Linked DNA regions of Homo sapiens. The protein of the gene in region 1 binds, or shares a complex with, the protein of each later gene. Links are inferred from orthologs where the notes say so. Each region holds a gene or a part of one and is shown in the gene's direction. Other genes may lie near its edges.

Region 1 (8,747 bases):
TTCCATGTGTTTCTCTAATAGGACTTCTGTGTTCAACATCTGATTCAGACCTTAACTTTTAAACACATGTTCACTTCAGATTCTTTTCCCTGGAAGTCCGGAAATGTATTATGCAGTGGTGGCTTTTTGGTTGTTTCATTTTTCTTCTTTTTTCTTAGAAGTTACTAATATACAGGCATCCATGTATTTTTCTTTATAACTTCTGTAGCTCTTTCTTGAATACTGGTTAGTTAGCAAAACCCCATCTGATCCTTGATGGCACAGAGCTGTGCTTTAAGTTCTATAACTAATAATTTTTGTTCTAAGTGTGGATGCCAAAAAATGGACATTTCATATGGTACTTATACTACATAATAGTCTTTAATTTGATATTAGGGTAATTTGTAACACATCATTTAGACTATAAAGTAGGATAATAGTGTATAAAAGTAAACTAATCCATCTTCCTAGGCTAGAAATTAAACCACATTTCATCTGAAGGAGCCTACTTAGGCTTACTTTTCTCAAACTTTCAGTTCCCTAACAAATTAAGATGGATTAGACTCATATTTATGGTATTTAATATGAAACAATTAAATATAAAACAGTGCCCTAACCTTAATGGCCTATGTGAAGACTGAAAGATACTTTTTTAATAGTTTCAAACAGAAATGAGGTGCTGCCTTAATCTTTTTAGGACCTGGTTTTTAGAAACTTTTCCACTGAAGTCTACAATTTTTTTTTTTGAGTGATTTTTCATAATTTGCCTTTTTGAAGAACATGCAGTGAGCATTCATAAAGTGTTTCCCCCTGCACCTTGGCCCCCCGTCTCATGCAGCACATTTATGACATTGAAAACCACCAGTAATAGATAACATTGAGATTTGAAATTTAGTTTTACTTAGGTATAATGACAGACCAAGTATAAGGCTTTGGTTGAGAGACCAGCTTTTAAATATTGAAAGACAAATATAGTGTAAAAGGCGCAATGGAATTTGTATAGTGAAGGAGATTCTCTAGTCCCAGGGTTGTAATGTCACTTCTGTCTAATTCATTACAGAATTACAGAATCAAATCATGTTAGCCCTAGAAGAAACTGCAGATCATTTTGTTCAATCTTCTCATTATATAGGAAAGGAAATTTGAGGGCCAGTGCAATGGTTTGCCAAGGTCACACAACTAGTTAGTGGAAGGATCCAGGCATTCTAATTCCTTTCTTTCACTAATACATTTGGCCTGCTCTACAGAATTACTTCTGTCTGATACTATCCACTTTGAAGAGTAGCTAGCATATAGTAGCCATTTACTTTTGGCTCAATTAAAAGCAAACATTTTTGGGACAAAATCAGGCTTTCCTGATTACTTCTTAGATAACAGAGCCCACACAGTATTAAAACATGCAGCCTTTCTTTATGCAAAAAGATTGAATATGGAGCCACTTGAATCTTAAACTTCAGTCTGCAGCTATAACCAATATCATCAGAAGTTATACACAATTGGCAAAAGAATAGCTTATTCTGCCCAAATACTTGTCCAGTCACTAGGATCATTTCACTTTTTTGAATACCATTTGCTTTGGGGAGGGAAGTATTGCCAGACCATGAATTCATTATTACCTCTGATCAGTTTTAAACTTCATTTGAAAAGTGGTTCCTTCTCGTTTTCTCCCTCCCTCAGGCTGCATCCTAGCATGCCCAGTTTTAGTCTGGCATGAGCTTTTATGGCATTTTGAATCCCTCCTTCCTGAGGGTTTATAATGACAGTGCTGAAAACCACCTGGACTGAAGTATGAACATTGCCATTGAATTTGAGGGGGACTGAGAATGTTCTTTCTAGTCTGTTTTATTTTGACAGAATTTAACATACTAAGGCTTTTCCACTTTCTGCCATAAACCTAGGTTTATAATACTTTTGGGGTGCTAATTAACATGATGTGTTTTTCTCCAGGTGGATAAATTAGATGCTTCAGAATCACTGAGAAAAGAAGAAGAACAAGCTACAGAGACACAACCCATTGTTTATGGTAATCTCTCTCTGTAACCTCAAAAAATTCATTAGACAAATATTTAATTACTTAGAGACTGTGCCTCAAAATAGAATACAACAAGCTTCTAAAGTGCAAAAGGCTTTCTAAGAAATACTGCTCTCTACTGTCTGATTTTTTTTCTGAGAAGTCATAAAGCAGGTGTTGATATTATTCACTAAAATAATCTTAAATACAAGAAAACTCAAAAATAGTCATTTAAAATCATAACATGAATCTTTCCTATCATCTGGTCCCTCACGCATTACCTGCTCATAAATTACTGAAAAAGAAATATTGATGAATTCCATTTTCAAAAGAGCAAAAGGTGAGAGAACATGCCAAGGCTGTCTTTAGTATGCTTTACATAAAGAATACATCCTCATTTTAAATTCTAACTGGGGCAGAGAACTGGGTAGAGTTTCCATTTGAGAACTTTCCAGAGAGATAGGATCTTCAAACTCTCAAGTGAATATTTAAGACAATTTCATGTCTTCTTAAACCTACATGTCTGAATTACTGCTCCTTTCCATTTCATAGTTGGTGAACAGATTCATTTGAACAATCACTTTGAAGAGTATAGGTAGAAGCACAATAACCAGGTGAGGGAACATAAAAATATGACCATTATGGCTGGGTGCGGTGGCTCATGCCTGTAATCCCAGCACTTTGGAAGGCTGAGGCGGGCGGATCACAAGGTCAGGAGCTTGAGACCATCCTGGCTAACACAGTGAATCGCCGTGTCTACTAAAAATGCAAAAGATTAGCCGGGCGTGGTGGCACATGCCTGTAGTCCCAGCTACTTGGGAGGCTGAGGCAGGAGAATCGCTTGAACCCGGGAGGCAGAGGTTGCAGTGAGCCGAGGTCGTGCCACTGCAGTCCAGCCTGGGTGACAGAGCAAGACTCCGCCTTAAAAAAAAAATATATATATATATATACATATATATATATATAACCATTATATATCAGGCTACTGACACAAATAATAATATATACACTTATTATGGTTTTGTCTCCTTTTTACTGTAGATAAAAAGTACTTTAGGAATTTAGAGGACAGGATAGTTTTGATAAAGTGGGTTCTTAGAGATGGGAGCAAGATGTTTGACATGTTTGAGATAGGAAACACATCAAGTCCTTAAAGGTGAAAAAGACATAGGAAACACAGTAGGAACAAAAAAAAGATGGGTGTAATACTTTGGGGTTACCTACTGAATTTGGCTTGCCTTCAGGGTGTTTTCATGGGTAGTTGAAAATTGGGTTGGAATTTCAAGTAGATGTCATTATCAAGATTAGGGATGACTTTTTAAAAACTGGTTTCTGTTGGCTGGGTGCAGTGGCTCACGCCTGTAATCCCAGCACTTTGGGAGGCCAAGGTGGGCGGATCATGAGGTCAGGAGATCAAGACCATCCTGGCCAACATGGTGAAACCCCATCTCTACTAAAAGTACAAAAATTGGCTGGGCATGGTGGCATGCAACTGTAGTCCCAGCTACTTGGGAGGCTGAGGCAGGAGAATTGCTTGAACCTGGGAGGCAAAGGCTGCAGTGAGCCAAAATTGCACCACTGCATTCCCTGGGCGACAGAGCGAGACTCCGTCTCAAAAAATAATAATAAACTGGTTTCCAATAATAATTTGTTTGCTGAAGACAGCTTTGGTTGTTAACCACAAAAAGCAAAGACATGAAGTCCTTTGTGTAGGAGAAATCTTGATCTAGGTTTACACTGTAGTGGGATGTTAAAAATACTTTTGTAGGGGTAGAGAGAGGTGTTACTTGTTTTCGCTCTCTAAGCCAAGTTCTCTACAGGTCATGTTTTCTGTATATGGCCAACAACTATTTAAACTTTATAAGAAAGAGTGTCAACATAGTATTTGATAGAGGGTGTATGTTCTAATGTATTTCATACCTAAAGAATGTCTGAATATGTCTTTTTTTTTCCCCCAAGATGGGGTCTCGTCTGTCACCCAGGCTGGAGTGCAGTGGCGTGATCTCGGCTCACTGCAACCTTTGCCTCCTGGGTTCAAGTGATTCTCCTGCCTCAACCTGCTGAGTAGCTGGGATTATAAGCATGCACCACCACGCCCGGCTAATTTTTTTTGTATTTTTAGTAGAGACGGGGTTTCACCATATCGGCCACGCTGGTGTCCAACTCCTGACCTAATGATCCACCCTCCTCGGCCTCCCACGGTGCTGGGATTACAGGCGTGAGCCACCGCGCCCGGCCCAAATGTGTCTTATTTTTAATTTAACTGCTGTCTCTAAATTAGTACTGGATCTTCTATAAATGAATTTGGTTTCATTGCCATTTAGACATGTTTAAATCAGAAATTTAAATGTAACTCTAAAAGTTATGTTAAAAACATGTCATTTAGACCAAGCATGGTGGCTCACACCTATAATCCCAGCACTTTGGGAGGGCAAGATGGGCTGATCACTTGTGGCCAGGAGTTCAATACCAGCCTGGCCAACGTGGCAAAACCCTGTCTCTACTAAAAATACAAAAATTAGCTGGACATGGTGGCGCACACCCATAATCCCAGCTACTCGGGAGGCTGAGGCACGAGAATCACTTGAACCCAGGAGGCAGAGGTTTCAGTGAGCCGAGATTACACAACTGCACTCCAGCCTAGGCAACAGAGCCAGATTCTTTTTTTTTTTTTTTTTTTTAAAAAGTCTTTTAAAAAATTCTTTTATTGTGCTGATTTTATTGTGTCATGAAGTGTAATATGCATGTAGGTATGTGTCAAGTATACAGAGTGTCAGGCATACGGTGTTCAGTCATAAGCAGTTCTGGCCTTTGGCCCTGCACTGTTTGTTGGCTTTTTAGGTAGGAACCTTCTTAGAGTAAGACTGTCATGCTAAAATTGTAGCAATCAAATGTGCCCCCCATACAACTCATTTGAGGTTGAGATTATGTTGCTAGAGTGGAGGAGATTGGAGTGTTCTAAATGCTAACAGTTTGTCCTGCCTCCTTGCCCCTGCCCCCTGCTCCTTTTTGTTTTCTTCTACTGTAGGTCAGCCCCAGTTGATGCTGACAGCAGGACCCAGTGTTGCCGTCCCTCCCCAGGCACCTTTTGGTTATGGTTATACCGCACCACCGTATGGACAGCCACAGCCTGGCTTTGGGTACAGCATGTGAGATGAAGCGCTGATCCTGTAGTCACCTATTTTCGTACTGAAACATCGTCTTTACCCACTTCTCAGTTTATAATGGGGGAAAACAGGCAACGTGTTCTTGTAACCTTTATTTCATGAAGGACTTCTTTTTGTTTCTAACTATAAACTTGGATCACCTATGTTAAAACCTTATTTCACATTCCACATCATTTTAGAATTTATTTTCGAAGGGGAATAGTTTCAATGTTTTATTCACTTGGGCTTTTTTTCTTCCCCCTCTTTCTTTAAAGAACTGCTCAATATTCAATCTGTTGTGAAGAACCTGATTTGCACTCTGTAGTGTTTAAAGAAACAAAGAAACTCTAATATTGAATCTCTTAAATTTAGTGTATGTAAACAGCTTACAAATACGTATTGTCTAAATGCATTTAAATCTGTTTTATTCAAAGAAAAGCTAAAGCAAAAACACTGGCATATGACCATGCAAGACTGTCAGTGCCAACAAAGACAACACTAATCAGCACATCGTACACTGGATTGCAGTGCTTCCCAGATTATTGAAAAATGTTACAGACAACTTGCCTGATTTTTAAATGAGCGTAAAAGGCCCTCTAACCTATGCAGGTTTCCCCATTATGCATATAGAAAATGCTAGTATGTTTTGCTCACTTCATATGTAACAGGTGCCCTTATGTTGTGCTGTATCCTGTGCTTTTTCTGTGGGACCATTCCATTCAGGAGCAAAGAGCACCATGATTCCAATCTTGTGTGTGTTTACTAACCCTTCCCTGAGGTTTGTGTATGTTGGATATTGTGGTGTTTTAGATCACTGAGTGTACAGAAGAGAGAAATTCAAACAAAATATTGCTGTTCTTCAGTTTTGTTTGTGGAATTTGAAATTACTCAAATTTAAAATAAATTACTGGACTGTGGAAATAACATAGAATTGAAGTTTTAATTAAATACCACTCAAACGAAAAGAACAGTAGTTTTTGTAGTTTTATATTGGATACTGAGGCATTAGGGAGGCATGAAAGGAAGAGGAATGAGGATTGAGACATGTGAAGACATTGTGCATTATATCAATGTGCATTCCTGTAGTTCATTAACAAGGTACATGCAATAGTCTAAAGAACCAGAGTCACTACTATAGTGGCTTAACATTTAATCTGTCTCCAATATTTTAACCAAGTGACACCGAGGTTTTTATCGAAGCATTTCACTTAAATGAACAAATCATGGCTGTTATATTAACTTGAAATAAAATATATTTAAACATGTAGTTAACATGCTCTTTCTCATCATGAATTATAAAGGTGCCCAAATTATGGGTATCTTGATTTTTTTCAAAAATTGGTTGTGTGAATCCAGCTCTTGCTTATGGCTGAGAATGTTCCTAAAGTTCATTTCACTATCCCTTAATCCTCAATAGCTACACATACCCCCTTGCCTAGTTAGTCTTGCACTGCTTTACAACTCTCTTAGGCAAATTACCTAACATAAGCTCCACAGAAGAGTTTTTTAAAACTTAAAATCCCTGTCCCACCAGGTGTGGTGGCTCATGCCTGTAATCCCAGCACTTTGGGAGGCTGAGGCAGGCGGATTGCTTGAGGCCAGGAGTTCGAGACAAGCCTGACCAACATGGTGACTCCATCTCTACTAAAAATAAAAAATCAGCCAGGTGTGATGGTGGATGCCTATAAGATCCTAGCTGCTACTCAGGAGGCAGGAGGCTGAGGCATGAGAATCACTTGAACCTGTGAGGCAAAGGTTGTAGTGAGCCAAGATCACGTCACTGCACTCCATCCTGGGTGACAGAATGAGACTCTTGTCTCAAAAAACAAAAAAACCTATTTAGTTTCATCCAGGACATTAAGTGAAAGTGTTTAATGTGAGTGCAGGTCAGTGAAGAATACAATGGTGCCCCTGCTTTGATTTGTGGGAGGTGCCATCAGTTTTCCCCACCACTGCTTTTGCACCCTCAGTGCAAATATCAACACAGAGAAAAAAAAAATAATAATAGTATTATGAAAACATTGACTCTGTGGAGACCCTGTGGGTTCTGCAGAGTATACTTTGAAAACTATAAGATTATGAGTTCTATAAAATACCAAGTACAGATGAACTAGAAAACAAGCATATATCCACAATTACCAGAATTTTCATAGTATTCCTTTTAGTAGATATGCCATGACAGTTACTTAGCCACCCCATGCCATCCTGTTGGGAATGCCACTACCTTTGAATTTGGAGCCATCAGTCTATCTGAGGCAAACCTCAGAAATTACCTGAGCCAGAATCATGCACTTAGCACTGAGTTCAACTCAGTCTTAACGTTGCATTTTGTTGCATCACTTTTGCAGCCAGTAAACATTCTGTTTAGAAATAGTTGCTATTGTGGCATCATTCACAGTTGCAATTTTTCTCCTGTGCTGTCATATGCCTGTGCGAAGTGTATTAAATGAATCAAATATTAGAAATTTCAAGGCTGTCTTTAGTGTTCTGCCCACAATACTCCACCAATGACCTTAGACCTTGAGATGGTGCTATAACGCTGCTTATATTGCAGTTAACCATAGAGAGGTGGAGCCACTTAAAATGGGCCTATTACCAAAATTCTCCCTGGCATCATTACAGTTCTTGGGGATACACTGATTTTAGAAATTACTGTCAGTATCCTCCTAAAAGAAGGCTTAAATAGTTTCTAACAAGATGACTATCAGGAAGCTATGTGGCTTGGGGAGTTGGGACCCTCTGCCTCATATTCTGGGTAACTGGTATAACATAGTAATTATTAGGATTGTATCAAGTGTATCTAAAGATCAAAAGGGAAAAAAGGCACCCTTAATTGTCAAAGTTAGTTCTAGGAAAAAATACTAGCAGGGATGACAAACTACGTTCACTTTACAGTTACCATAAATTCTTACTTGGGCCCACCCATTTCCATCTGTTAAGGTCCATAAGGTTACTCAAGTTTCAGTGGCTTCATTGTTACAAGAAAGGGGGGAAGTGAGAAACTTTAATAGGCTGTGATTTAGAACCACTGCTGATTAACCTTTGGCCAGTATGGGTCAGGGAAGGTGAACATGAAACACTGCACAGTAGGTTGTATCAATGCTATAAAACTCAACCTGGAGACAAAATTTAAACAGGTTATAAACCATGGGACTCCATTGAGGGTGGCTGTATCAGTCACCCAAAAAGTGACAGCAGGGGAACAAACTGCAGCTTGCCTCTAGTGGGAATACCCTTGAACCTCGACCTCCAGGGGGACAGCAGCATAGTCTTGGGGAAGGGCTACCAACACAAAGGGACCTAACCATGTATAGGGAAATGCTGTTTCCTCCATTTTAATCCAATTGTATCATGACCTGTTTCTCTCATCTTAAATATCTGTTTCAGCCTCTCACTTGAACCACCAAGACCATTTAACCAACAGTACTGTTTTTAAGCCCAAGATGACAACTGCCAACCATAGAACATGGGAATAGGTTTTATTTTCATCTCAAGAACATTTAAGTTGGGTGAAGAAATTCAGCTTTTGTTGTTAGAATCTGACAGGCTTCAAACACTTGTGATGGAGGGGTTGTTGTCATATCAAAGTCCACCTAGTAAAGTTTTAGGTG
Region 2 (9,373 bases), on another chromosome or scaffold:
ACCAGCCTGACCAACATGGAGCAACCCTGTCCCTACTAAAAATACAAAATTAGCCAGGTGTGGTGGCACACACCTGTAATCCCAGCTACTCAGAAGGCTGAGGCAGGAGGGAGAATCGCTTGAACCTGGGAGGTGGAGGTTGCGGTGAGCCGAGATCACACCATTACAATTGCTAGAAACACAAAAACCTATCAAGACTAAACCATAAAGAAATAGAAAATCTGAGTAAACCTATAACTAGTGAGATTGGATCGGTAATCAAAAATCTCCTGACAAAGAAAAGCCCAGGATCTAATGGCTTCACTGGTGAATTCCATTAAACATTTAAAGAAGAACCAACTCTTCTCAAACTTCTCACAGAAATTGAAGAGAACACTTCCTAACTCTTTCTATGATGCCAGCATTATGCTGATACCAAAGCCAGATAAAGACACTACAAGTCCCAGTAATAGCATGAAAAAAAGAAGACACTAGTAGAAAAGAAAACTATGGATCATTATCTCTTGTGAACATTGATGCAAAAATCCTCAGCAAAATACTCAGTAACCGAATTCAACAGCACAATAAAAGGATTGTGTACCTTGACCAATGGGGTTTACACCCAGAATGCAAGGGTGGTTCACCATACAAGAATCAATCAATGTAATGTACTGCATTAACTGAATTAATTTAAAAAACACGGCTGGGCACGGTGGCTCACGCCTGTAATTCCAGCACTTTTGGAGGCCGAGGTGGGCGGATCACGAGGTCAGGAGATCGAGACCATCCTGGCTAACACAGTGAAACCCCGTCTCTACTAAAAATACAAAAAAATTAGCCAGGCGTGGTGGCGGGCGCCTGTAGTCCCAGCTACTCAGGAGGCTGAGGCAGGAGAATGGCGTGAACCCAGGAGGCGGAGCTTGCAGTGAGCCGAGATCGTGCTACTGCACTCCAGCCTGGGTGACAGAGCGAGACCCCGTCTCAAAAAAAAAAAAAAAACCATGCGATCATCTCAATAGAGCAGAAAAAACATTTGGCAAAATTCAACACCCTTTCATGATAAAAACAGTCAATAAAGTAGGAACAGAAGGTAGTTATATAATGTAACAAAAGCCATATATGAAAAATCTGGCCAGGTATGGTGGCTCACACCTATAATGCCAACACTTTTTGGGAGGCAGAGGCAGGAGGATCACTTAAGCCCAGTAGTTTGAGACCAGCTTGAGCAACATAGTGAGACCCAGCTCTATAAAAAAGAAAAGAAAAGAAATCCACAGCAAACATCATACTCCATGGTGGAAGACTGAAAGCTCATCCACTAGGATCAGGAGCAAGTAGAGAGTCAACCTAAAATAACGACAGGGAGAGTGGCTCTAAGAAAAAGTGAGATTACTTGGGAATGAATGACAAATTGTATATTAGTCCATTTTCATGCTACTGACAAAGACATTCCTGAGACTGGGCAATTTACAAAAGAAAGAGGTTTAATGGACTTACAGTTCCAAGTGGCTGGGGAAGTACACAATCATAGTGGAAGGCAAGGAGGAGCAACTAATGTCTTACATGGATGGCAGCAGGCAAAATGAGAGAAAAGCTTGTGCAGGGGAACTCCTCTTTATAAAACCATCAGATCTTGTAAGACTTATTCACTGTCACAAGAACTGCACAGGAAAGACTTGCCTCCATGATTCATTTACCTCCCACCGGGTCCCTCCTACAACATATGGGAATTCAAGATAAGATTTGGGAGGGGACACAGCCAAACCATATCAGATTGTGTGAAAGGAAAATAAAATCTCAGGACCTCAAACTCACTACTCAAAAGGAAAAGTTAAGCTTGGAAACTAAGCCACACAAAAAAACTGCCTTTCCTTTTGTTCCTAAACAGATAGGTATAAGATAGAAGGCCACATGTCTCCCCAGGTGGCCTCCCTCACCCTGACAATGTAAATTAACAGCTTATCTTCACAGGTGCGGGACAAAAGGAGACTAGAAATCATCCCCCCCACGCCCCTGTCAGACAAATGCATATTTGAACTCTTCCTCTACTCTCTGTTTATCTTATGTACAGATTTACTGAGTGCAAGATGAATATGTAATTGACTATTCCTCTACCCTGTCCTTTTCACATGGAACGTATGGATTCAGTGAGCTCTAATCAAAGCCTCAAAAGAATGCAATGGCTTATCTCACTTGTCTACCTTCCTTTTTTTCCCCTTTCTTCTTTCTCCTCCTGCCCACTTTTTCCCCTTTAAATAATGAAGTCCTCAAAATCTTCTTTGGAAAAAAGTGCATGCCACAGATCATACTGTGTCTTGTGTCTCTTCTTCTTGGGTGTGCCTGCAACCTTGGCAAAATAAACCTCTAAATTGATTGAGACCTGTCTGTGATACTTTCTTGTTTACAGTTGCATCCCAGGGAATACATGTACTATGGTGAACCATGGAGGGGGGCACTCAGAGAGAAAAAGGAAGGAAAGGGGTTTTAAAGGCAAAATGAGGAAGGCTACGTAAGTTGTTTTGAAAAAATTATCCTTGGCTACAAGGATTGATAACAAGGGTAGCATTATTCCAAGATTGAACAGGCAATTGCTGGGCAGGTGTCATTGCAGAAATATTCTTCGTGCATGGGTGTGACGGCCTTTGTGCAAGATTGTGGTTTCAGACAATCCTTGTTTTTTGTTGTTGTTGTTGTTGGGTTTTTTTTTTTTTCTTGAGACGGAGTTTTGCTCTTGTTGCCCAGGCTGGAGTACAATGGGGCAATCTCGGCTCACTGCAACCTCTGCCTCCCAGGTTCAAGCAATTCTTCTGCCTTAGCCTCCTGAGTAGCTGGGATTACAGGTGTGTGCCACCACACCCAGCTAATTTTGTATTTTTAGTAGAGACGGGGTTTCATCATGTTAGGTTGGTCTTGAACTCCAGACCTCAGGTGATCCGCCCATCTCAGCATCCCAAAGTGTTGGGATTACAGGCATGAGCCACCGTGCCCAGCCTCAGACAGTCCTTGTAATATTTTCTATCATAGGCATGTGTGCATGGGAGCCCCTCATTTATGGCCTCCTGAGTCCATTTTGCTAGGGTTTGGCATAAGTGACTCCAGTTTGATTTGGACAACTTGTGCAGAAGGATGCCCACTTTTGGTATTTCTATTCAACATAGTACTGGAAGTCCTAGCCAGAGAAATTAGGCAAGAAAAAGAAATAAAAGCAACCCAGATTGGAAAGTAAGAAGTATCTCTGTTTGCAGATGCTATTTATTTATTTAGAGACAGGGTCTCACTCTCATTGCCCAGGCTGGAGCGCAGTGGTGTGATTGTTATAGGACAGGGGTCCCAATCCAGACCCCAAGAGAGGGTTCTTGGATCTCACGCAAGAAAGAATTCAGGGTGAGTCCTTGGTGCAAAGCGAAAACAAGTTTATTAAGAAAGTAAAGGAGGGGCCGGGCACGGTGGCTCACGCCTGTAATCCCAGCACTTTGGCAGGCCGAGGTGGACAGATCATGAAGTCAAGAGATCGAGACCATCCTGGCTAACAGGGTGAAACCCCGTCTCTACTAAAAATACAAAAAAAAAAAAAATTAGCTGAGCATGGTGGCAGGCTCCTGTAGTCCCAGCTACTTGGGAGGCTGAGGCAGGAGAATGGCGTGAACCCGGGAGGTGGAGCTTGCAGTGAGCCGAGATCGCACCACTGCACTCCAGCCTGGGCAACAGAGCGAGACTCCACCTCAAAAAAAGAAAAAGAAAGTAAAGGAATAGAAGAATGGCTACTCCATAGACAGAGCAGCCCCAAGGACTGCTGGTTGCATATTTTCATGGCCATTTCTTGATGAAATGCTAAACAAGGGGTGGATTATTCGTGCCTTCCCTTTTTAGACCGTATAGGGTAACTTCCTGATGTTGCCATGGCATTTGTAAACTGTCCTGGCACTGGTGGGAGTGAGGATGACCAGAGGTCACTCTTGTCACCATTTTGGTTTTGGTGGGTTTTGGCTGGCTCCTTTACTGCAACCTGGTTTTTGTTGTTGTTGTTTGTTGGTTTGTTTGTTTTTTGAGACTGAGTCTTGCACTGTCACCCAGGCTGGAGTGCAGTGGTGAGATCTCGGCTCACTGTAACCTCCGCCTCCCGGGTTCAAGCAATTCTCCTGCCTCAGCCTCCCAAGTAGCTGGGATTACAGGCACCTGCCACCATGCCCAGCTAATTTTTTGTATTTTTAGTAGAGACGGGGTTTCACTATATTGACCAGGCTGGTCGCAAACTCCTGACCTCACAATCCGCCCACCTTGGCCTCCCAAAGTGCTGGGATTACAGGCGTGGGCCACCTTGCCCAACACTGCAAACTGTGTTATCAGCAAGGTCTTTATGACTTGTATTTTGTGCTGACCTCCTATCTCATCCTGTGATTTAGAATGCCCTAACCGTCTGGGAATGCAGCCCAGTAGGTTTCAGCCTCATTTTACCCAGATCCTGTTTACGACGGACTTGCTCTGATTCACACACCTCTGACACAATCATAGCTCACTGCAACCTTGACTTCCCGGGCTCAGGTGATTCCCTCACCTCGGCCTCCTGAGTAACTGGGACTACGGGCACCATACCACCATGTCTGGCTAATTTTTTGTAGTTTTAGTAGTGATGGGGTTTTGCCACGTTGTCCAGACTGGTCTCAAACTCCTGGGCTCAATCTATCCACCCACTTCCACCTCCCAAAGTGCTGGGATTACAGGTATGAGCCATGGCACCTGGCTAATAAGCTCTTATCTGCAGAAAACCCTAAATATTCCACACACAAAAAATGTTAGAGCTAATAAATGAATTCAGCAAAGCAGCAGGATACAAAGCCAATGCACAAAAATCAGTTAAATTTCTATGCATTAACAATACGCAATCAAAAAAGAAGATAAAACTTCCACTTACAATAACATCAAAAAGGCCAGGTGTGTTGGCTCATGCCTGTAATCCCAGCTCTTTGGAAGTCTGAGGATGAGAGGATCACTTGAGCCCAGGAGTTGAAGCTGTAGTGAACTATAATCGTACCACTACACTCTAGCCTGGGCAAGAGTAAGATCCTGTCTCAAAACAAAAAACAAACAAACAACAACAACAAAACCATGCAAATGGACAGCAATAAATAAATACATTAATTTAATTAAATAAAACAATAAAAACCCCCCCAAAAACAGTAACATCAAAAGGTGCTCAAGTTGTTACCAATTAAACTGAAAGTTCCAGCTGGGCTTGGTAGCTCACACATGTAATCCCAGTGTTTTGGGAGACCAAGGCAGGAGGATCCCCTGAGGCCAGCAGTTCAAGACCAGCCCAGTTAATATAGCGAGGCCCTGTCTCTAAATAAAAAAATTAAAAAGAAAAAAAAAAAAACACCTGGAAGGTCCCTTCACCCCAACTCCACTTCCACCCCCAACTTGGCGGCACATCTTTCCTTTCGCTCTTCCAGTCCATATTTCATAGTTGCCTTTCAAGTCCCACATTAGAAATAGCAGACAGCCCAAATCCCATGGTGTTTCTTTGCATCGTCTCCCTATACCCCGTGTTTAAATGTCACAGCGCCTCACACACAGTGCTTTGACAGGCCATTTGCCATCTGTTGGTCTCACCGGATTGTAATCTCCGCATGGCCATGGCTGGATTTTATAAAACGTTGCTGTCCTGGTGCTTGGCAAAGCGCAGGCAGGGAGGAGGCATTCAGAGCCTGTTCACAGAGGGCAGCGGGCAGCGTGGAGAGTGGTAGGCTGCCTGGGTAAACCAGGTCTGCCTTTCTCAGGCTGGTTCATACCTAAAGGACATTTAAGGGGCCTAGCTGGCCATCCAAACTCTGGTCGTATGAACTGAAGCCTCCTCAAGGGAGATACACAAAAAAATACACAAAACAACACGGCCTAGTGGGAAAGGACCTGGACTTGCATGAAAAGGTGCGGGGCAGCCTTTCCCAGCCTCAATTTTCCTCTTCTTACAGAGGCGGAGGCTCATAGAATGAGGTGCATGACATCCCAACCTAGGAGAAGAAACTTCTGCAGAATGAATCAGGAGCCAGGTCTGCGCTCCCGAGGCCAGAGGTGGCCTCCTGTCGCAGCTCTGTGCACGGTACGGCCACTCTGTGCCCTGCGTTTCGCCTCCAGGCCGGGCGGGAGCAGTGCCTAGCCCAGGTGTCCTCGACGCGAGCAGCTGGGCGCCGCTGCGGAGGGAGGGAAGCGCCGCGCCGGTCCCGGGCCCAGCGCTGCGCCCAGTCCTGAGGCGCCCTCCTGCGGCCGCTGCTCGGCGACCTCCCGGCCCTGCGGCCCCGCCCCCGCGGTGACGTCACCGCATTCCGGCTCCGCTCCTCCCGCCGCGGCGCCCGCACCGCAGTGACAGCCAGCCGGGCCCGGTGGCGGAGAGGAAGTGCGGTCCGCGCCAAGCCCGTCCCCGCCGACGCCGGCTCCCCCGCGGCTCGGGTGACAGCGTCGCGGCCGCCGGACGCAGCGCGGGGCAGGCGCGGGCAGAGCCGAGCGCAGCGGAGGCTCCGGCGGAGGCGCGGGGAAAATGGCTGATGACTTTGGCTTCTTCTCGTCGTCGGAGAGCGGTGCCCCGGAGGCGGCGGAGGAGGACCCGGCGGCCGCCTTCCTGGCCCAGCAGGAGAGCGAGATTGCAGGCATAGAGAACGACGAGGGCTTCGGGGCACCTGCCGGCAGCCATGCGGCCCCCGCGCAGCCGGGCCCCACGAGTGGGGGTGAGTCAGCGCGGGGCCTGGAGAGGGGCTCAGGGCGCGCACCCGGGGGACCCCGGCCGGGGCCCAGGGGCACAGGGAAGAGAGCCTGCTCTAGGCCACCCGGGGCAGGAGCTGGGAGACGTGGGGAAGAATCTTCTTGGAGATCTCCATGTAGGACTTCCGAGCTGGGGATGAGGCCTCGCCTGGGGCTGTGGATCTGGTGACTCCCGGGACAGGAATTCGGTCATGACATTTCATCCCCAGGCCAGCTTCCCCACTGCCCGGCTCTGGAATCCAACCCCACCTCAGTTTTGAGAGTCCCTCCTGAGCCTCCTAATAGCCTGGGTGTCCCAGGCTCCCAGCTAAGTGTGCAGGTGTGGGCAGAACACAGCCCTCCTGGCCCCTCAGGCTTAGCTCTCTCCTGCAGCTGGGAAAAAAGAGGATCCTGGGTGCTCCAGGAACTCACTAACCTTCCCCGGTGACCGCCTGGCATTCGGCAGTCGCTGGGCTAAGCGCCTTGGTTACATTTAATCACTTCATACACGTGATTGAACCCATTTCAGAGATGGTAAAACTGAGGCTCAAGGGAGTATGCTATTGAAATAACTAGTAAGTGGCAGATCAAGAATTTAAACCTGTTTCTTTTTCTTTTACATATATATTTTTTCTTTTCCTTTTTTTGAGATGGGGTCTCGCTATGTTGCCCAGACTGGTCTTGAGCTCCTGGGCTCAAGCAATCCTCCCACCTCTGCCTCCTAAAGTGTTGGGATTACAGGTGTGAGTCACCACACCTGGCCGTGAATTTAAACCTGTTCCTGTCGGACTTGAAGCCCTCTCCACCTGACCACACTGCCTACCAAGTGTCTGGCTCTGAGTTAGACACCGGAGTGTGGGCCACAAAGAGGCATCAGTCAGATGCGGTAGGGCCCTTCAGGGTTTTGTAGTTGTCGACTTAATGGTTTTCCAAAGGTGGTCCGGGGCTATTATGATTTACTGTGATTGGCTTCAGACCTCAGTGTTCAGGGCCTAGTCCCTGTGAAATCATCTTTATCAATGATGTTTCTGCCCTGGTTCTGGCTAGCAAGAATGATTTTGTAAAATATTTAGTAAAAAAGTAGATATCACCTTCATGGGTACATCCAAAACAGGTTTTACTTCCTGTTGATGTCATTTTGGAAAGGTTTATGGGCCTGTTGTAGTAAGTGCTAACATATATACATATAGACATATTTTGGTTAATGATGTTTACAAGGCTCTTCACAGTCATGTTTGTATCCATTCAACGTTTACTGAGCACCTACTGTGTGTCAGGACGCTGGGGATACAGAAATGAATAAGACAGTTCCTGTGGCTGAGGAGTTTGAAGCAACTCTGTATCTCCTTGATATGAGAAATGTAACCAGGCTTTTGTAACATGCAAGAAACCGGTGGCCCAGAGAATCTGAGTATCTTGCCCAGAGTCACACAGCCAGGAATGACCAATCTAGGACTTGATCCCACGCCTCCCAACTCTGGGCTCCATGCTCTTTCAAATGCTGTGGAGCCTGGGCAACATGGTGAAACCCCATCTCTACAAAACATACAAAAATTAGCCAGGCATGGTGGCATGTAGCTGTAGTTGTAGTTCCAGCTGCTCGGGAAGGCTGAGGCAGGAGCATAGCTTGAGCCCGGGAGGTGTAGGTAGGTCGCCGTGTGCTGTGATCACGTCTCTGTACTCCAGCCTGGGCAGCAGAGTGAGACCCTGTCTCAAAAAAAAAAAAAAAAAGATTCTATAGCAGTCACCTCCCTGGCAGGAGATAGGATGTGGGGTGAGAAGCATGGGGTCTTTTGCCACCTATCTGAGACAGCAATGGAGGGCTTCTGAAGTGGAAGCTTCCAGCACCTCAATACAGAATCTGCCGTGTCCCAGGGAATTCCTAAGAAATGCCTGCCCCAGTTAATGCACCAGTATTCACTGGACCACACCTCTGTGAGACCACCCTTTTCCTCAGTCTGGCTCACTGGGGCCTGTTGGGGTCGGGGTGCAGGGAAGAGGAGGGAGGCCTTGTGGGGAGGTCCTGCTGAGGGGAGCCATTGTGAGAACCTCAGGAGAGAAAAGATGGGATTCAGGCTGAGGGCAGCCAGATGCCTGAGGGAGCTGAGCAGGTTGTGGCCTCTCCCAGGATGGTGGGGCTCCAGGGACTTACAGTCTGGATGGCAAGTTCTGTCCTTGGCAGGGGTGGGGCACAAATTGGCCTCAGACCAGAGGTGACAGGGAGAGAAACAATGACACGCTCGCTTCTTCCAGGGAGGTGCCGGGGATACAGCCTTCTGAGGGTCTCCCAGGCGCATACCTGCTGACTCTGCAAAGGCTCAGCTGCCCTCCTTAGTTGGATCGGGGAGCAGGGAGGTGTTGAGGGATGGCGGCTCAGTGGATGGCCAGATGGGCTAGAATTGATCTGACCTTCTCAGCCTATGCAGTGCTGAACAGGTAATCTTCCCCTGACCAGGGATGTGTGCCAGGAGCCTGGATGGGGCAGAGAAAAAGCGCCCTGGCCTGCTGAGAGCTGGGCAAAAGCTGGCTTAGCAGCGGCCGCCAGTCAGTACCTCTGAGGCACCTTCTCTTAGATGTTGGGGTCCTCAGATTAGCAATCTCTGTGCTGACACTGGGCTCAGTTGCCCCTGGGGAAAGAGGTATCTGGTGTAGGCCTGTGCTG
Region 3 (11,383 bases), on another chromosome or scaffold:
GTGGCTGGAAGGTGTGTTAGGGTGGCGTGGCTGGAGGGTGAGTGTTAGGAGGGTGGTGTGGCTGGCAGGCGAGTGTCAGGAGGGTGGCATAGCTGGCAGATGAGAGTGCTGGGGGAACTCCAAAGAGCCCTCACCATTGCCAGCAGCCTTGGTGCTTCCATGGCCCAGCTTGCCTCCCTCCACTTAGGCTGCTGAGCTCTTGGCCAGCAGCTGCGTAGCCCGTGTGCCTGAGCGGCGAGTTTGACACCTCTCCTTGCCCATGTCCCTGCCACCCTCAGACATAAGTGAAAGGAAGAATAGAGGAGTCATGGGGTGCCTGGTGGGGAAGGTGTGCTGTGAGAGCAGGTGGCAGCCCGGGTCCACAGGAGGCCCTTGGCTGGTGACAAGCCCAGTGGTTTAGGCGCAGGTGCACCAGCGCAGCTCCCTCCAGGCAGGGTTACCCAAACTGAGCTGTACAGGTTCTGTGGTACTCATGAAACAGGTCTGGCTGGCAGCACTGGAACCGCCTAGAACTGTAAAATGTCTTGGACGCATGCTCCCCGCTTTCCCCTTCCATGGCTGTAGACAAAACCATGCGTGTTTCTTTGGTGGTCAAGCCCCCTGGGGAGCTCAGGCTGTGGTGTGGGTGGGAGTTGGTGCCTCTGGCAGCAGCGGTGGGGAAAGTGGCTGTGTGGACAGGAGGGCTGAGGATGGAGCTGGGGTGACATCTGTGGGGCAGTGCGGCAGTGCCGATGTGGCCTTCTGCGGGGCCCAGTGGGGGAGGGCAGGGGGAGAGCAGGCTGCACAGGGAGCCGACTGCATTAGGAGACGTGGAGGGGGCCTTCTCTCCAAGTCCTGTCCTGCTACCAGGCAGCATCCATGGGGCCATCAGCACAGCTCACCAGCCCCCAAGGTGGGAAACCTTCCACCCACAGCCATGGTGCCCCCCACAATGAGTTCCCGGCCCCAGCCCCTTCACACCACCCACGCCCTCTAGAACCACTGTTTTCAGGTGTTTGGGGGCTGTCTTAGTCAGTTTGGGTTGTTATTTTAAAAGTGCCACAGACAGGCCGGGCACGGTGGCTCATGCCTGTAATCCCAGCACTTTCGGAGGCCAAGGCGGGTGGATCACCTGAGGTCAGGAGTTCAAGACCAGCCTGGCTAATATGGTGAAACTCCGCCTCTACTAAAAATACAAAAAATTAGCCGGGCGTGGTGGTGGGTACCTGTAATCCCGGCTAGTCGGGAGCCTGAGGCAGGAGAATCGCTTGAACCTGGGAGGTGGAGGTTGCAGTGAGCCGAGATCGCGTCATTGCACTCCAGCCTGAGTGACCGAGGGAGATTCTATCTCAAAAAATTAAAAAATAAAAGTGCCACAGTCTGGGCGGCTTGCACAGTAGGCATGCACTGTCTCACAGTTCTGGAGGCTGGAATGTCCAGGAACAAGGCCTGGCTGGGTTCAGTTTCTGCTGAGGCCTCTCTTCCTGGCTTGTGGACAGCCACTTTCTTGCTGTGTCCTCACATGACCTTTCCTTTGAGTGCTAATTCTTTCACGTCTCTTCTTTCTTCTTTCTTTTTAAATTTTTTTATATTTTTAGAGGCAAGGTCTCACTCGGTCATCCAGGTTGGAATGCAGTGGTGTGATCACAGTTCACTGTAAACTCAAACTCCTGGGCTCAAGGAATCTTCCTGCCTCATCCTTCCATCGTGCAGGGATTACAGGGGTGAGCCACCACACCTATCTCTTCTTATAAGGGCACTAATCCCATTCACAAGGGCCCCACCCTCATGACTTAATCACCTCCAAGAGGCCCTGTTCTTAATACCATCACCTTGGGCATTTGGGCTTCAACATATACATTTAGCCTGGACACAGACATTCAGTCCACAGCAGGGTCTTTACCTCAAACCGTACCTGGGTCTTCTCTCTTCAAACCTGGGTTTTCCCCACTGCCACCTGTTGTGCCCCATCTCGGGTGTGGCTTCCTGCACTGGAGGTCTGTGCCCTCCCATCCTCACCTCTCCCCAAACTGAGGCCAGGCCTCCTGCCCCTGGGCCTTGGCCCTTGCTGTTCCCTCAGTGCCGCAGTCTAGCCTGCCTGTGTTCTGCCTTGGGACCAAGGGACCACCAGGCCCCACATCCCTCTAGAAGGTTCTGTAACAGGACCTCTGTGTCTGTTTCCACAGGAGCCTTCTGATGGAGCGTGATGCCTTGAAGCCCAACTCGCCCCTGACCGAGCGGCTCATCCGCAAGGCAGCTACCGTCCACCTCATGCAGTGAGCCAGCCTGGCCGCCTCCACCCTGCAGAACCTCAGTGGTGGCGTCACTGCGTCCAGTCAGCTGCTCCACCGGGTTAGGGTCAGGAGACGGCCAGAGCCTGTTTGTTAGGGCTGTTAGAGGGTGATCTTCAGTTTTACAGGAAGTGGGTCACGGGTTAATTTTAAATGTGATTCCGAATCTCCTTTCAGTCCTCGAGAAGGGCCAATGAGCATTTTTCAGCAGTCACAGCCAGTGTGAGTGCTGCTCTTTCCACCTGCCTTGCAAATTCTGTTTCCCAGGGGAATGTGTCTACTGCCTGGTGGTTCAAAGGTTGGAAGGCAGGGCAGAGGTGGGGGCTGATTCTGCTGGGACAGGTCTTCCAGAGGCAGCCTCCCCCCACTGCCTGTCCCCGTCCCCACCAGGCTGCCCTTGGGATGGACCTTTTCATTCTTTTCTTTATATTCTAGACAGTCTCTGTTGTCTCATTGTGTTGCTGTCCCATTTTTCAGGTGAGGGTACCGGGGTAGGGGAGTGGCCTGCCCAGGGTCACACTATGAGAGGCCCCCACCTGCTGCCTTTGGACGCAGCCCCCTGCTGCTGCATCCACCACCCTTCTTACAGATCAGCGCGCACATGGGGTCCTTCTGCTGTCTCTGGGGCGAGTCTTGGAGCCCCCTGGGGGGCTCTGTTGGTGCTGATTTGGACCCGTTTCTCTTTTTAAACTGCACATCATAACAGGGCTTCATGTCGAGCATGATTTTAATCATAAATGCACTTCTGAGGTGCAAGGATTGAGCTCAGAGCTGCTCTGTTGTGGCAAAACCCAAAGTGCTGTGATGTGTGGCTGTGACAAGCCTGGAGCGGGTCCTGTGAGCGCCGCCTCTGTCTCCTGCTTCCCCACTGAACGCCTGCTGAATGTGCCGCTGACTCAGCTGTGCTGCTTTCAGCCCTCCTGTGAGGGGCGGTCCCAGTGCACAGATGTTTTTCAAGTTCCTCAGTTTGTACTGAAATTAGGGATTCATCAGGGCAGGAAGCAGGCAGGCCTCTCAGAAGGGAGAGGAGGCCTCCAAATCTATTGAGTCCCCACAGTTTGCTCAAGCCCAGGCAAATTTCTGTGATTAAAATGAATTCATCAGTTCCTCCAAGTCTTTGAGCATCTGTGGTGCAGGCCTGGGGCTGGGTCCTGGGGAGATGGCTTCTCCTTGAACTTAAGGTAGGTGGGGCAGGCCAGGCGCAGTGGCTCACGCCTGTAATCCCACCACTTTGGGAGGCTGAGGTGGGTGGATCCCCTGATGTCAGGAGTTCGAGATCAGCCTGGCCAACATGGTGAAACCCTGTGTCTACTGAAAATACAAAAATTAGCTGAGCATGGTGGCACACGTCTGTAATCCCAGCTACTCGGGAGGCTGAGGCAGGAGAATCACTTGAACCTGGGAGGCAGTGATTGCAGTGAGCCAAGATCGTGCCATTGCACTGCAGTCTGGGCAACAGAGCGAGACTCCCATCTCAAGGGAAAAAAAAAAAAAAGTAGGTGGGGCATCTAGTCAAGAAAATGGGAGGTCGGGCGCAGTGGCTCACGTCTGTAATCCCAGCACTTTGGGAGGCTGAGGCAGGTAGATCACGAGGTCAGGAGATCAAGACCATCCTGGCTAACACGGTGAAACCCCATCTCTATTAAAAATACAAAAAATTAGCCGGGCATGGTGGTGGGCGCCTGTAGTCCCAGCTACTCGGGAGGCTGAGGCAGGAGAATGGCGTGAACCCGGGAGGCAGAGCTTGCAGTGAGCGGAGATCGCGCCACTGCACTCCAGCCTGGGCGACAAAGCAAGACTCCGTCTCAAAAAAAAAAAAAAAGAAAGAAAGAAAAGGGGTAATTATAGTAGTATTTCCAGAGAGGCGCCTTCTCTACCCAAGAACTAGGGACACATCCTAAGGGGAGCCTCCTTCCCCTCTCCTGGTTCCAAGCAAGAAGACATGACTTGGCTGTGCAATTGGGAACCCTGGTCCCTCCTCCAGGAAGCCTTCTACCCGCCAACCCCCACTGCAGGCTGGTGAGGGTGCTGCCTCTGTGCCCCTCAGCCCTTGGCACTTGCCCTTGCTCTTGCACCCCTGCCATGACCTCTCCAGGTCAGGGACAGCATCTGTCCCCAGCATCACCTGGCACATGGCCTGCACTGAGTAGCTGTCAGTGAAAGTTGGTGAATGAAGGCATAAATAAATGAAGTCAAACTCTGTATTAGGCCTTCTTGCATTGCTATGAAGAAATACCTGACGCTAGGTAATTTATAAAGAGGTTTAATTGGCTCACAGTTCTGCAGGCTTTTCAGGAAGTATGGTGCTGGCATCTGCTTCTGGTGCAACCTCAGGAAGCTTAAGATCATGACATAAGGTGATGGGGAGCCAGTATATCACATAGTGAGAGCAGGAGTAAGAGAGAAGGGGAGGTCTTAGACTCTTAAATAACCAGATCTTGTGTGAACTAAGCAAGAACTCATCACCAAGGGGATGGTGCTGAACCATTCATAAGGGATCTGCCCTCACGACCCAATTACTTCCCACCAGGCCCCACTTCCAACATTGGGATCACATTTCAACATGAGATTTTGAGGGGACACACATCCAAACTACAGCAAATCCTATTGGGGGCAGAAATGAATCTGCCATACATAGGCCACACCTACTATGTGCTGACATGATACAGGGAGAGGAGTATCAGGAATGACTGTTGGGGATCCCTCTGCCATTCTCCCATGAGCAGACATCCCCAGGATGAGCTGAGGGGAATGCAATGAGCAGGCCAAACTCTTTCCAAGCTGTTTGACCACACCCACCTACCCCAGCACTCTCAGCCCCTGCCTGGTGCCCTGTGCTGAGCTGGGTGAGGCTGGGGAGACTGGTGAGTGAGGGCTGCCCTGCCCTTTTTGAGCCCCCAGTCTTCTGGTGAAGGAACATAGCAACATGGAGTGATTGGTATGGATGATGCAAAACCAGGGACATGGGACCCAGAAGTGCCCGAGCCAGCCTGGAAGGCCTCTGCCCTGGGCCCCGGGTGGCTGTTTGCTGCACAGCTCTCCCCACAGCCTGCCCCAAATAAACAGCTTATCTTCGTCCCTGAAAATGGTGCTCTCGAGTTCCATCCTTTTCAGAGCGGGTCCTCCCAGACTCCTCTTCCTGCATCCTCCTCCATCCCGCTTAGTGACACTTTGCCGTGGGTGGAGCCCCTCATTTGATCCTCAAGCCCCCGAGGTGGGTATTATACCTCGTTCGCAGGCAAAGGCTCAAGCGAGGTCAGTCTTAAGTTGCTGCCCACTGACCCGTCTACCAGTCCTGTCCTTGCGTCTCCATGGCTCAGGTCAGGGTTATCCTATCTGCTTCCCACCTCTCTCCAACACATGCACTCCCCAAGGCAGGCTCCATCACCGGGCCCCAGCCCCTGGCTCTCTCCTCCAACGCAGCTCCCCAGCCGGCCTGTAAAACCGAGGACAGGCTCCCGCCACGCCCTCGGCGGTCCTCAGGCCTTGGCGGTTGGGGAAGCCCGCCAAGGGCGACGGTTCCCCTCCAGCCCCACAGGCTGTGCAGCTCCGGCAATGAGTCTCCCTCAGGTCTCTGGGTCAGCCGGCGCCCCAGTGCGTGCCTCGGGGGCAGGGATCCCGGCTTTTCACTACTGTTAGTAACAGCTCGCGCGCGCTGCTTCACAGCAGGTGGGTGAGCCTACTTTTAGTCTTCCCATCGACACCCTTAGATGGCAGTTTTAACTTTCTCCCTACACACAAGGAGCTGCTATACATGGTTCCGGCTTGACGCGGATACCTAGTGACACTTGGCGGCCAGGCCGGGCAGACTTCCGGGTGGGTGATCCCTGGCGCTGTGCGGAGCCATTCGCTGCGCTGAAGCAGTGCGCATGCGCACTGGACGCTTCTTACCAGCGTCCTGACTACAATACCCAGGACGCACCCAGCCCGCCGCCTCTCGGAGCCCTTTTCAAACCGACCAATCGGCAACCCGCGTCTCCCGGCGCCGCGTTTAAATCCGTGCCGGAGGCGCGTCCTGCATCGTCTGCCGCTTTGGGTAAGGTGGGGTCAGGGTCGGGGGCGAGGCTTGCCCGGTGGGCCCGGTGCGGCGCGGTGCCCGCCGTTTTCGGGACGGGGAGGGGCCGCGCCCCGCCAGGAGCCGGGCCTGGGCTCGAGCAGGGGTCACTGAGGCCCCTCGCGCCGTGGTCGGGGATGCCGGGAGGTCTAGGGCTGCCCCCCAGGCAAACAGAGCCCCCAACACTCTGGCCCAGAAGCCGAGAATTCCGTTATCTCGTCTGATGGCGTTCGGGCTGACTCCCGGCCTGGCGGCACTCGGGCCCTGGGGTCCCCTGGGATGCGATCATTTCAGAGCGGCCCCCGCGCCGCCTCTCCCAGACCTGGCCGCGGCCTTCAGCTCTCTCTGCCTCTGTGAGCCGAGGGCTGAAGGAAGCCGGAGCCCTGGGCCCTGACACGTACTCACTTTCTGGCCCCGTTCCACCCTGCAGTGACTTCTGACAGCTCTCTCCATGGAAGGAGGCGGCGGCCGCGATGAGCCTTCAGCCTGCCGGGCAGGGGACGTGAACATGGATGACCCTAAGAAGGAAGGCAAGTCCTTGCTGCTGCGGCGCTGTTGTTGTTCAGGATGTTCAGTAGAGATGGAGGGTGATTTAATGTTTCCCTGAGAAATTCTTTCTCAAGTGCTCGACTTGTACTCTGCACCTGTGAAACACATGACATCTGCCTTCGTTTTCTGGTTTTCTTTCACCTCCTCCCCATTTTAAGTTTCATCACAGCCAGGATTCTCATCCGTTTTATTTACCGCAGTGCTCCCATGCCCTGAACAGCACCTAACACTTTGTGGGCTCTCAAATATTTATTGTATTGAATTCGATGTTTTCTTTTTTGTTTGTCGCTGGTTTCTGTTTGCTAAGACTTATTTAGGATCTTTGAGACCATGTTAATGAGTAAGCCTGGCCCCAAACCCCTTTCTTCTTGTGTCTTTGACTGGTTTGGGTATCAAGGTGAGGGTACAGCTTCACAGAATGAGTTACAGGCCACACCCTCTTTTTCTCTCAAAGCGTTTTTATTTATTTATTTATTTATTTATTGACGGAGTCTCGCTCTCTCACCCAGGCTGGAGTGCAAAGGCGTGATCTGTACTCACTGCAACCTCTCTCTCCTGAGTTGAAGGGATTCTCCTGCCTCAGCCTCCCTAGTAACTGGGATTACAGGCACCCGCTGCCACACCTGGCTCATTTTTGTATTTTTAACAGAGACGGGGTTTTGCCATGTTGCCCAGGCTGGTCTCGAACTCCTGAGCTCAGGCAATCTGCCTGCCTCGGCCTCCCAAAGTGCTAGGATTATAGGTGTGAGCCACCTCACCCAGCCTCACAAAGCATTTTGACATCCCTTGGGTAGTTTTCTCACACTACCCAAGGATCCTTTCTTTTTGAGACCAAGTCTCACTCTGTCTCCCAGGCTGGAGTGCAGTGGCATGATCTTGGCTCACTGCAACCTCTGCCTTTCGGGTTCAAGCGATTCTCCTGCCTCAGCCTCCCGAGTAGCTGGGATTACAGGCACCCGCCACCACACCTGGCTGATTTTTGTATTTTTAGTAGAGATGGGGTTTTACCATGTTGGCCAGGCTGGTCTCAAACTCCTGACCTCAGGTGATCCACCTGCCTAGGCCTCCCAAAGTACTGGGATTACAGGTGTGAACCACCGCGCCTGGCCCCAAGCATCCTCAATGCCTCCATTTTGCAGGAACTGTCCTGGAGACTTTACAAATCAATGTTGCATCTTCATATCTAGCAAGGCGCTTGCCTCTGCACCCCTCTCCTCCTTCCTGTCATGTCCTTCCTTTCAAATATGTCCTTTCCACGTGCATACTGCACCCCCTGCTCCTTCTTGAGGCCTTCCCCACTTCCGTTGACCTGACTTCATTTCCTTACTTTTCCCCTGTCCACTACTGGATCATGCGCATCCACATACAGATAATGTTCCCTTGTCTCACTTGTCGCCACGTCTCCTCCGTTGCCTCTCCATTGCTGTGTTTCTCCTTCCAAGCCAAACTTTGAGAGCTTTCTCACTTGTTATGCCATTTTTTTCCGCCTCTCAATCCCTCCCATTCCGGCTTCTGTCCTTACCACTCCATTCAAGCTGCTTTCATCAGTCGTTGACGACTTCCACATTGCTGAATCTCTTTTCACTTTTCTATCGCCAGTCAGCTTTTCAGTAACATTCGTCCTTCTGGAAACTTCCCTTGCTTGGAGTCCAAGACGCTCTTGGTTTTTTCCTCCTGCCTCTCTGGCTGGTGTATCTTTTCTCTGTCGGGGGCTCCCCCTCTGCTGTCTTCTGAGGCTGATTTCCCCAAGACCTGCTCTGGGACCGCTTTGTGCTTTCGCCCTCAGGGCGGTCAGCATTCCAATAGCTGTGCAGCGTATCTGCTCTCTGCGGCACCCACGTTTTGTCTTGAGCGCAGCCTCTCCTCCGAGCTCTGGGCTTGTATATTCACCTGCCTATTTGGCGTCTTCACATGCACGTCTCATCTCAAACTTGGCATACCCCCTCTGCATCTGCATACCCTGTTCTTTTTGTCTTTCTCATCACCCATTTTATTTCTCCATTTCACCCAGCTGTGCAAGCTGAGAACCTCCTACATTCATGCCATCACCAGCTAACGTCTTCTCCACCTTCAGAAGATATCCTGAATCCATCTACAGACTCTCCATCTCCATCCACATGCTGCTGTCTGGGTCTCAGCCACGCTGTCTCACCGGCTTCTACTTCCCGTTGGCTAATATGTGCATTTGTAATGTCAGGGGATATTATCTGCTTCCTTTCGGATACACTTTCTACACAGTAACGTCACCTTTTAAAAACACAAGTTAGATTATAAAGCTCTTTTCTTTTCTTTTTTCTTTTTCTTTTTTTTTTTTGAGACAGAGTCTCACTGTTGGCCAGGCTGGAGTGCAGTGGCGTGATCTCGGCTTACTGCAACCTCCGCCTCTTGGGTTCAAGCAATTCTCCTGCCTCAGCCTCCTGAGTATCTGGGACTACAGGCGCCCGCCACCACGCCCAGCTAATTTTTTTTTTTTTTTTTTTTTTTTTAGTAGAGATGGGGTTTCACTGTGTTAGCCAGGATGGTCTCAATCTCCTGACCTCGTGATCTGCCCGCCTGGGCCTCCGGAAGTGCTGGGATTACAGGCATGAGCCACTGTGCTCAGCCTTTTTTTTCTTTTTGAGATGGAGTCTCGTTCTGTCACCAGGCTGGAGTGCAGTGGCGACATCTTGGCTCACTGCAACCTCCGTCTCCTGGGTTCAAGTGATTCCCCTGCCTCAGCCTCCTGAGTAGCTGGGATTAAAGGCATGAGCCACCGTGCCCAGCTAAGTTTTGTATTTTCAGTAGAGACGGGGTTTCACCATGTTGGTCAGGACGGTCTCGAACTCGACCTCAAGTGATCCGCCTGCCTCAGCCTACCACTGTGCTGGGATTACAGGCATGAGCTACCACGCCAGGCCTAAAATTCTTTTCTTAAAGCCCGGTAATAGTTTCCTATCCCACTTTGGAGAAAATAAAAGCTCCTTGCCATGGCTTGCAAACCCTCTGTGATCTGACCCAACTTGTGTTTTCACCTCTTCCAGCCACTCTGACTTCTGACCCGTTCCTCTCACACACGCTTTGATATTTTCTCAGAGGTGTTCCCACCTCTACATGTCTCTCACCGCACTGCCTGAGGCACCCTCCAGGGTGGGCTGCATGTACCCCAAGCCTGCCTGGCACCTAGCGAAGGATGTGGTCTGTTGTGGGTGCTCATGTGTTTGCAGGATGAGCAAGTCAGCCAGCCCGGGACCCCTCGGAGCCAGTCACAGAGCCTGGAGCAGAAGACTGCTTCCCTGAGTTCTGGTCCTGGATTCTTTTTCCACGCCAGACCATTAGAAGTTTCTGAAATTGACTTCCTAATTTAGAGGTGTAAAAAGTGAAATGTCTGCCTCTCTATATCTCTAAGTCACCTACTTGCCCTTCCAAGGGCCATCGATGTCATCAGTCTCTTGGGTATCCTTCCAGACATAATTTGTGCAGGTGCAAGCCAACACGCATAGAGTGTTGCATCCCCCTTTCCATATAGCATGGAGAGCCCTGTCCTGAATCTTGTTTTTCAGGCTTAATTTATCTTGATGAATATTGTGTATCAACACATGAAGAGCATTACTAGCTTTTGTACCTATATAGGGTTCCACCTTGGGGATATGTCATTCATCTCATCTGCTGTGGGTGAACATTTAGTTTGTGCCTAGAGTCTTGCTGTTACCAATGATGCTGCAGTAAATAACTGTGGACACCGTGTAACTGCACAACACATTGCTTTCCACACCTGTGAGTGTCTGTAGGATACACTTGCAGAAGTAGACTTGCTGGGTCGAAGAGGGTGTGTGTTTCTTACTTCGATAGGTACTGCCAGGCCCTCTAGAGAGCTGTGATAATTTACACCTTCCCCAGCAGTGTAGAAATTGTCTCTTTCCCCACAACCTTGCCTATAGTTCATACATCTTTGAGTTTTGCCAGTCATATAGGCGAAAACTGCATTCTCAGAGCAAGTTTATTTTTAATACTTTTTTTTTTTTTTTTTAAGACAGAGTTTCCCTTTTGTCCCCTAGGCTGGAGTGCAATGGTGCGATCTCGGCTCACTGCAAACTCCCCCTCTCAGGTTCCAGCAATTCTCCTGCCTCAGCCTCCCAAGTAGCTGGGATTACAGGCACCTGCCACCAGGCCTGGCTAATTTTTTGTATTTTTAGTAAAGATGAGGTTTCACCATGTTGGCCAGGCTGGTCTCGAACTCCTGACCTCAGGTGATCCACCCGCCTCGACCTTCCAAAGTGCTGGGATTATAGGTGGGAGCCACAGCGCCCAGCCTCATTACTCTTATTTTTGAGTGAGGCTGAACTTCTTGCCATCTATTTAAGAATGTTTCGGCCAGGTGCGGTGGCTTGCGCCTGTCATCCCAACACTTTGGGAGGCCAGGGTGGGCGGATCACCTGAGATCGGGAGTTCCAGACCAGCCTGACCAACATGCAGAAACCCCGTCTCTACTAAAAATACAAAATTAGCCAGACATGCTGGTTCATACTGATCC

Evidence for each region.
Region 2: the proteins of CLTC (region 1) and CLTB are in contact, whole or in part, in a cryo-EM structure (PDB 6SCT), measured with the Sus scrofa proteins. The link is inferred for Homo sapiens from one-to-one orthologs. Residues at the interface, in NP_001139599.1 of Sus scrofa: Gln1291, Arg1293, Gly1294, Phe1296, Lys1326, Phe1327, Gln1354, Ala1355, His1356, Pro1382, Thr1383, Glu1413, Phe1414, Lys1415, Pro1416, Leu1417, Gln1444, Pro1446, Leu1447, Thr1473, Glu1474, Glu1475, Glu1503, Leu1504, Ile1505, Arg1508, Leu1533, Lys1535, Met1538, Lys1562; in XP_005661527.2 of Sus scrofa: Pro100, Ser102, Trp106, Gln110, Leu114, Ser121, Thr124, Glu125, Trp128, Arg129, Ala132, Asp135, Leu136, Trp139, Val147, Asn150, Lys151, Asn154, Arg155, Asp158, Tyr162, Glu191, Trp192, Lys194, Val195, Leu198, Cys199, Asp200, Phe201, Cys209.
Region 3: the proteins of CLTC (region 1) and GTSE1 are in contact, whole or in part, in a crystal structure (PDB 6QNP), measured with the Homo sapiens proteins. Residues at the interface, in NP_004850.1 of Homo sapiens: Val50, Arg64, Pro65, Ile66, Ser67, Ala68, Leu82, Lys83, Ala84, Thr87, Gln89, Phe91, Asn92, Ile93, Lys96, Ser97, Lys98, Asp143, Arg144, His145, Trp164, Gln182, Leu183, Tyr184, Ser185, Arg188, Lys189, Val190, Ser191, Gln192; in NP_057510.5 of Homo sapiens: Ser686, Arg687, Pro688, Leu689, Ile690, Asp691, Leu692, Met693, Ser707, Pro708, Val709, Val710, Gly711, Gln712, Leu713, Ile714, Asp715, Leu716, Ser718.

The regions. Positions count from the first base shown.
Region 1 is NC_000017.11:59,688,710-59,697,456, forward strand, and holds the end of CLTC (clathrin heavy chain 1), read left to right. Parts: intron 1-1,926; coding exon 1,927-2,002; intron 2,003-5,018; coding exon 5,019-5,143; 3' UTR 5,144-8,247; downstream 8,248-8,747. Other genes in the region: PTRH2 (peptidyl-tRNA hydrolase 2, mitochondrial), read right to left, coding at 8,730-8,747. UniProt on the Homo sapiens protein: Clathrin is the major protein of the polyhedral coat of coated pits and vesicles. Two different adapter protein complexes link the clathrin lattice either to the plasma membrane or to the trans-Golgi network.
Region 2 is NC_000005.10:176,413,502-176,422,874, reverse strand, and holds the start of CLTB (clathrin light chain B), read left to right. Parts: upstream 1-6,335; 5' UTR 6,336-6,511; coding exon 6,512-6,698; intron 6,699-7,811; exon of another isoform or gene 7,812-8,137; coding exon of another isoform or gene 8,138-8,422; intron 8,423-9,373. Other genes in the region: ARL10 (ADP-ribosylation factor-like protein 10), read right to left, coding at 8,138-8,422. UniProt on the Homo sapiens protein: Clathrin is the major protein of the polyhedral coat of coated pits and vesicles.
Region 3 is NC_000022.11:46,290,626-46,302,008, forward strand, and holds the start of GTSE1 (G2 and S phase-expressed protein 1), read left to right. Parts: upstream 1-6,244; 5' UTR 6,245-6,306; exon of another isoform or gene 6,307-6,754; 5' UTR 6,755-6,775; coding exon 6,776-6,854; intron 6,855-11,383. Other genes in the region: TTC38 (tetratricopeptide repeat protein 38), read left to right, coding at 2,166-2,259. UniProt on the Homo sapiens protein: May be involved in p53-induced cell cycle arrest in G2/M phase by interfering with microtubule rearrangements that are required to enter mitosis. Overexpression delays G2/M phase progression.